2 linked regions of the Homo sapiens genome follow. The protein of the gene in region 2 interacts with the protein of the main gene of each other region in a pairwise test. Each region holds a gene or a part of one and is shown on either strand. Other genes may lie near its edges.

Region 1 (3,500 bases), on a different chromosome or scaffold from region 2:
GAAGGACAATCCAGGGCCCTTCCAGCCAACAATCACACATACAGCTTCCAGCCAACACCTACATTCATGTCTGCACGCTTCACATATCCAAGAATGTGTCCCACAGCACTACTTGTGATAGGAAAAAATTGGAAACAGCCTTAATGTCCATCAAAAGAAGAGTGGTTTAGGCTGGGCACAGTGGCTCACGCCTATAATCTCAGCCCTTTGGGAGGCCAAGGTGGGCAGATCACTTGAGGTCAGTAGTTCGAGACCAGCCTGGCCAACATGGCAAAACCCTGTCTCTGCTAAAAATAAAAAAATTAGCCAGGTGTGGTGGTGCATGCCTGTAGTCCCACTACTCAGGAGGCTGAGGCAGGAGAATCACTTGAACCCAGGAGGTGGAGGCTGCAGTGAGCCGAGATCACACCACCACACTCCAGCCTGGGTGACAGAGTGAGAGTTTGTCTCAAAAAAAAAAAAAAAAAAGAGAAGAGTGGCTTAAATAAACCACGGTGAATTCCCACTACAGAATACTACACAGATGTTTTAAAAGAATGAATCAATCAAATGAAAAGATCTCCATGATTATTAAATTATAATAGCAGGTTGCAAAGTAATAGATACAGCATGATCCTATTTGTTTAAAAAACAATATCCAACACAAAGCACCAAGTTTCTTTAAGTACCTGTATAAATACATAAGCACATAGAAAATGACCCGGAAGGGCTAGGTGCAGTGGCTCACACCTGTAATCCCAGCACTTTGGGAGGCCGAGGCAGGTGGATTGCTTGAGTCCAGGAGTTCAAGACCAGCCTGGGCAGCATGGTGAAACCCCATCTCTACAAAAAATACAAAAATTAGCCAGGCATGGTGATGTGCGTCTGTAGCCCCAGCTACTCCGGAGGTTGACGTGGGAGGATCACCTGAGTCAGAAGAGGTCAAGGCTGCAGTGAGCCGTGGTTGTACCACTGCACTCCAGCCTGGGTGACAGAGTGACACTCTGTCCTAACAGAAAAAAAAAAAAAAAAAAAGACCTAGAAGGACATATCCTAAATTGATGCATGTCCCTGGGAGTGAAAGGTGATTAGCTGGAATTTGGAGGTCTTTTCCTTCATCCCTATTGTTGAATTTTTAAAGTGTATTTATGTATTCCTTTGTGCAATTAATTTTATTTATTTATTTATTTATTTTTTGAGACGAAGTCTCGCTCTTGTTGCCCAGGCTGGAGTGCAATGGCGCGATCTCGGCTCACCACAACCTCTGCCTCCCGGGTTCAAGCGATTCTCCTGCCTCAGCCTCCCAAGTAGCTGGGACTACAGGTGTGCACCACCATGCCCATCTAATTTTGTACCTTAGTAGAGATGGGGTTTCTCCATGTTAGTCTCAAACTCCCGATCTCAGGTGATCCACCCACCTCGGCCTCCCAAAGTGCTGGGATTACAGGCGTGAGCCACCACGCCCAGCCCACAATTAAATTTTGTTACCATCATCTGATCATAGTGTGAGAGTTACAAGACAGACTCTGGAGCCAGACTGCCTGGTTTCAAATCCTGGCTCTGTTACAAACTAGTGGAGTGACCTTAAGCAAGTTACTTCATCTATGCTTCCACTTTCTGTTCTGTAAAATGGCACTAAAATAGCATCTACCTCATAGGATTATAATAAGGATAAAATAAAATAATACACTGAAAGTTAGAACAGTGCCAGCACATAGGAAGTCCCATAGAAGTGTTAGCTATTGTTGTCATTATTATTAGTCTCTGGCTCAGCTGTTTGATAATGATGGTGATGGTGCTGGTGACAGCAGTGATGTTTTTCCCTAGAAAGGGTCAAGGTGGTGAGCTCCCCAGAAACATATTTTACCAACAACAGGAAAAGAGAGGCACGAACAACTATTGTTGTTGTTTTAAAGATGGGGTCTTGCTCTGTTGCCTGGGCTCAAGCAATCCTCTCACCTCAGCCTCTTCGAATAGCTGTAACTAAAGGTATGTGCCACCAGGCCTGGCTAATTTTTTATATATATTTTTAGAGACAGGAGCTCGCTATGTTGCCCAGGCTGGTCTCGAACTCCTAGCTTCAAAGAATCCTCCTGCCTTGGCCTCCCAAAGTGTTGGGATTACAGTTGTGAGTCACTGCCTAGCTGAAATTTGTTGAGCACTTACTATGTGCCTGGTATTTTATGTATATTATCTAATTGACTCTTCAAACAGACTTGTGTGATAGATGTCATGACCCCTGGAGCATAAGGAGGTAAAATGCCTTGCCCAAGATCGTCCAGCTATGAGGCAAAAGAGGCAGGGCTTGAACCCTAACCAGCCAGACCCCCAAGCTCCTGCTCCAGCCCTGGCTGCACCAGGCTGCCTGGCTCTGAGCAGCAGCCAAGCCTGCCATGCTCGGCAGTGTCACTCTGCCAGCCTCTCCCTGGCTCGGCCCCCTCCTCCCCCTCACAGATATTTCTGTGATCACAGCCTCCTCCTCTGAGGAGGAGGAAAGACAGAGATGGAAGGGAAGATGGATCACTAAGACAGAATGACGCTTAGTTGGGTGAGAGAGGGTGAAAAAAGGAGGGGGAGGAGGAAAAGCGGGAGAAATTGATGGGACAGGAGAAGGGGGAGGGGAAGACGGGGCACACAGAAGGAAGACATGGGAACTGAAGGAGAGAAGGATGGATGGGAGTGGGGAGGAAGGTGAGGTGTAGAGATGGGATGAGGTTATGGACCACAGAGACCCAGAAATCCTGCCAGGAAGAGGAGGAGGCTGGGCCTCTCCTGCTGGGCTCTCCCTCAAGCCAGTGGCCCATGCTGCATCTCTGAAACTGCCCCTAACACCCTGGACCCTCCACAATCTCCCAAGGATGGCTCAGTGCCACCCACATCCAGGCCCCCACCTTCCACCCTGCTCCCAACACACACACTCCCCTGCCCTGGTAGCTCCTCACTCTGCCCCACGGCTCTTCCTCCATCCCCAGCCCACACTCCCAGCCACAGTGCTAAGCAGGACCCCTTCCTCCCAGCCCTGAGGTGGTGGGAAGACCTAGTGGAAATCACTAAGCCAACCAGTGGCCTTTTAAAAGCCCATTTCCATAAATAGACATATGGAGAGGGGATGAAATGCTCAAGGCTGACCAGCTCCCATGTTCTGACCCCAGAGGAACTGGGGCCTCGAGACCTATGCCCAGCTCCTTTCCCTCTGCAGGGAAGCTAGAGAGTGGAATGGGGCAGGAAGCCAAGGCTAAGTGGGGCTGGGCACAGGAAAAGGGAAGGGGTCCAAGACACCCACATCTGATTCATTCTCATCACTTCCTTTAGGTCCAAACATTGAGGGGGCCTCCACCTCCAGGCCAGCTCTGGTGGGAAGAAAGAGGCGGTGACCCAGGAGGGCCAATGCAATTTCTCAGATGCATTTTCCCAAAGTGCAGGCCGTTCACCAGGCAATCAGGAAAACGGCCTGCAGGAGGCTTACTTAAGGAGCCGAGTGGATTTGAAAGCAGGAACAGAGGCAGAATTTGCACACGTCA
Region 2 (3,500 bases):
GGTTTCCCTGCTTCCCCCTGCACACTCATTTTCACTAACAGAGAGTTCAGGCCTGTATGGTGAGTTTCTTTCTGTATTTGGATTTCTACTGTGACTAGAAAGTCATCACTAGCCTTCTTTGGCTGTGACCGTAGTCAGCCAAATGGGACAATCAGTGTTAAAAAACCAAAGCAGGCATACTTCAATCTGAAGGCAGAGGATTTTTTCTTTGAAAGCCTGGAATCTTTGAAAAATTGCATCCAATTTGCATTTTGGGTAATTTTATGGTTTTAGCATTTGTTTTCAATTCTTGCCTGTTAATATCCTACCTAATAGAATAATAACTATACTGAAATATTTGGCCAGTTGCAAATATCAGGGTTTTTTTTTTTACATCAGTAACCTGGGTAATCACACATTTATCTCTTTGACTAGTAATTATTCAAGATTTCAAAAGAGACAACTTTGTCTTTTCTTTAGTGTCATTCAGTAGAAGACACTATTAATAAAACATTCTTTACCCCACCTCTTCTTTGGCTGTCTCTCTCAGGGGATGGATAAATGCCTAGTAGGAAGTTATTATCTCAGAGTCCAGGCTTAGTTAATTCTGAGAGGCTCTTTGGATATACAAATATGGCTATAGATATAAATATGGTTATTGATAGAGCTAGGTAGGCATAATGGCTAGAAGATAATACTATACTACATTTCCCTTCTCCTGGCCAAGATGTGTCCTGGGCCTGGGTTTTGTCTCCTGTCCTCATCTATTAGGAGGATAAATGGCACCTGTGGTGTGAGATGAATCAGCTGGAGGGAGTCATATTGAATTGGAATCTGTGTCTACCCGGCGAACCTCTGATCAAAGGAGAGGGCTTCTAAGTCTCCTCTTGGGATCTTAAGACTCTTTTGCTAGGTCACCTGCCCTTGAGTCTCTGTGGTGGGAGCTGGGAGAGGGGTCTGGGCTAACTCCCAGGTGGACCTTTGGGCTTCTTTCTGCCCTCTACTGTCCAGCTCCAAGTATAGGTCAGGTAGGGGTGCTTCCTTGCCATGGATAGAGGCGCACCCATGTTGGTTGGTTCTAGCATGGGGTGGCCTGGAAAGGGGAAGCAAGCTCTGGGGTGGCCAGCTCTGTGGGTGGGACCACGAAGAAGGCTGTAGTCAGTCTTGCCTTTTCCCTGCTTTTCCTAAGGTCCTTTCATCATCAGCTTGATAAACATGCTAATATATTACCTGAGACAATTGTTGAAATAAGTGCTGTTATTGGAGCATGTGCTTAAAGGGAACAATTGCCCTTTGTTCAGCCCCATTCCTGAGGGTGCCTTGTTGGAGATATTTATTCTTGTGGAAGACTAAACCATGAGATGAAGGAATAGAAAAAGAAAGTAGGTTTTTCCCCTAAGTGAGAAGGTGAAATTGGAGCACATGATTTTTCTTAAGACAGATTATTTCAGCTTAGGCTTCCCAGAGCCCACACCCTGCCCTTGATCTGCGGCTCCCACCCCAGGTCCTCTCCCAGCCATGCCCTTGGCTTTTGCCACTTCCCACCCGTTTCCTCTCATCTCTGTACTTTTCACATCTGGCCATTAGGTTGGGGGCCAGCTGCGATGGAACTCACGGCAGGGCTGATTTGTCTCGTGGGGGTGGCGAGGCCCTGAGTGGAGCCAGGTCAGCCCTCATCTCTCTCCTCCCTGCCGCATTAGATTTGTCACACTCTGACAGAGAAGCTTGTTGCCATGACAATGGGCTCTGGGGCCAAGATGAAGACTTCAGCCAGTGTCAGCGACATCATTGTGGTGGCCAAGCGGATCAGCCCCAGGTGAGCAATTGGCGGCTTCGAGGTCCCCACACTCCCTGAGGGAAGAGAGGGGCTGGAAGCTGGGGTAGCCGCAGAGCTGGGCTCTTCTATAAAATGGTGCACAGGCAACTTCAGCTATTTGTTTCCCACACATTTACAGAGTGACCAGGAGGGTTTAGATACCGAGACTTCTCAGCTAAGGTGGGCTTCCACCATCCCCACCTGCAGCATGACCCATCTGAGAGGGCTTTGGGGAAGCGCCAGCAGGTGCCTAGTCCTGACCCTGTCCTAGACCCTGCCCTGCAGAGCCCGTGGCCGCCCCTCTTACCCAGCCACATACCAGCTCCCCTTGACACGCCTTCCTCCCAGGCCAACATGTCACACAGATGCCCACACCCCTGTCTCTGCCTGAATCTGTGTTGGAGACTAGCTTGGGGGACCCACTCTGGCTGTGCCCACTGCTCCATCCCTGGCCCAGGCCAGCAGCCTCCAGCACTGGGTGGGAGCTGAAGCCATATGGCATTCAACCTCCCAGATTCCAGGCTAACTGCGAAATCCCGTGTGGGAGGCAACCAGCAGGATTGCAGTCAACAGCTACACCCCCTCATTTGGGCTTGATATCGTGAGGAAAAATAAAGCCCTTTTCTTAGAGCCAAGGGCTGTACTAAGTTTGTGCTGCCACCTGGTGGCTGGTATGCCGACGTGCCTGAGCAGAGGGTCGGGGCCAGGATGTTTTCCACGTCAGCCACCTGGCCCCTCCGCCCACCCGGGAGGGCACCTCTGTATGCCTGCTGAAACAATGGCACTGCTGTGAGTTCCAGGGGCCCACACGTTCCTTGTTGCCATGGCCCCAGGTAAATCACGAGGAACCAGCCCTTTCTCTGCCTCAAGATTAACCAAATAAAAACGACCAGTTTCCTGAGTTGCCACGTGAGTTCCTCTGAGGGAATACACGACCTGGTCAGCTTGAACTCAGTCCAGGCAGTTCAGTGAGTTGAGAGAGTGGGAGGGAGATAATCCAGGGAGGGACTCAGCTGAGAACAGTTCCCTGCCTTCTCTGGAATTGCCTCCAGTGGGCTGTAGCCACATGGTCAGCCCCTGGCTTTATAAGAACCCACATCCCAGGCTCTGGGTGGGCACTGGGCATTCCTTCCCCATTATTTTATTTATTTATTTATTTTTGAGATGGAATCTTGCTCTGTCACCCAGGCTGGAGTGCGGTGGTGCGATCTTGGCTCACTACAACCCCCACCTACCGGGTTCAAGCGATTCTCCTGCCTCAGCCCCCTGAGTAGCTGTGATTACAGGTGCCTGCTACCATGTCTGGCTAATTTTTGTATTTTTAGTAGAGATGGGGTTTCACCATGTTGGCCAGGCTGATCTCAAACTCCTGACCTCAGGTGATCCTCCTGCCTCAGCCTCCCACAGTGCTGGGATTATAGGTGTGAGCCACCACACCCGGCCTCCTTCCCCATTAGTTTTAAAGATTCTGCACTATGGTATTCACTAGACCCTTTGTCATGCTTTTTGTGCCTTCTAAGAGCCACTTAGAGGCCAGGCAGATTCCTGTGATACAGGTTACAAGGCAGCACTTTCAGGAGGTTGAGGTTTCTGTGTGAGCCTGGGTGAGTAGGATCAGCACGGGTCCTAAGATGAGGGTGTGGCATTGTCCAGAGAGTGGACCTGTTCTGGTGCTCACAGGCCCATCCTAAAGAGTACCTTGGAC

What was found. The genes of interacting proteins can lie anywhere in the genome.
Region 1: the proteins of TMEM98 (region 2) and HTR6 interact in a two-hybrid assay, tested with the Homo sapiens proteins (one large-scale study listed by BioGRID and IntAct).

What each region holds. Positions count from the first base shown.
Region 1 is NC_000001.11:19,671,375-19,674,874, reverse strand, and holds part of HTR6 (5-hydroxytryptamine receptor 6), read right to left. Parts: intron 1-3,500. UniProt on the Homo sapiens protein: G-protein coupled receptor for 5-hydroxytryptamine (serotonin), a biogenic hormone that functions as a neurotransmitter, a hormone and a mitogen. Also has a high affinity for tricyclic psychotropic drugs.
Region 2 is NC_000017.11:32,934,653-32,938,152, forward strand, and holds part of TMEM98 (transmembrane protein 98), read left to right. Parts: intron 1-1,679; coding exon 1,680-1,795; intron 1,796-3,500. UniProt on the Homo sapiens protein: Functions as a negative regulator of MYRF in oligodendrocyte differentiation and myelination. Interacts with the C-terminal of MYRF inhibiting MYRF self-cleavage and N-fragment nuclear translocation.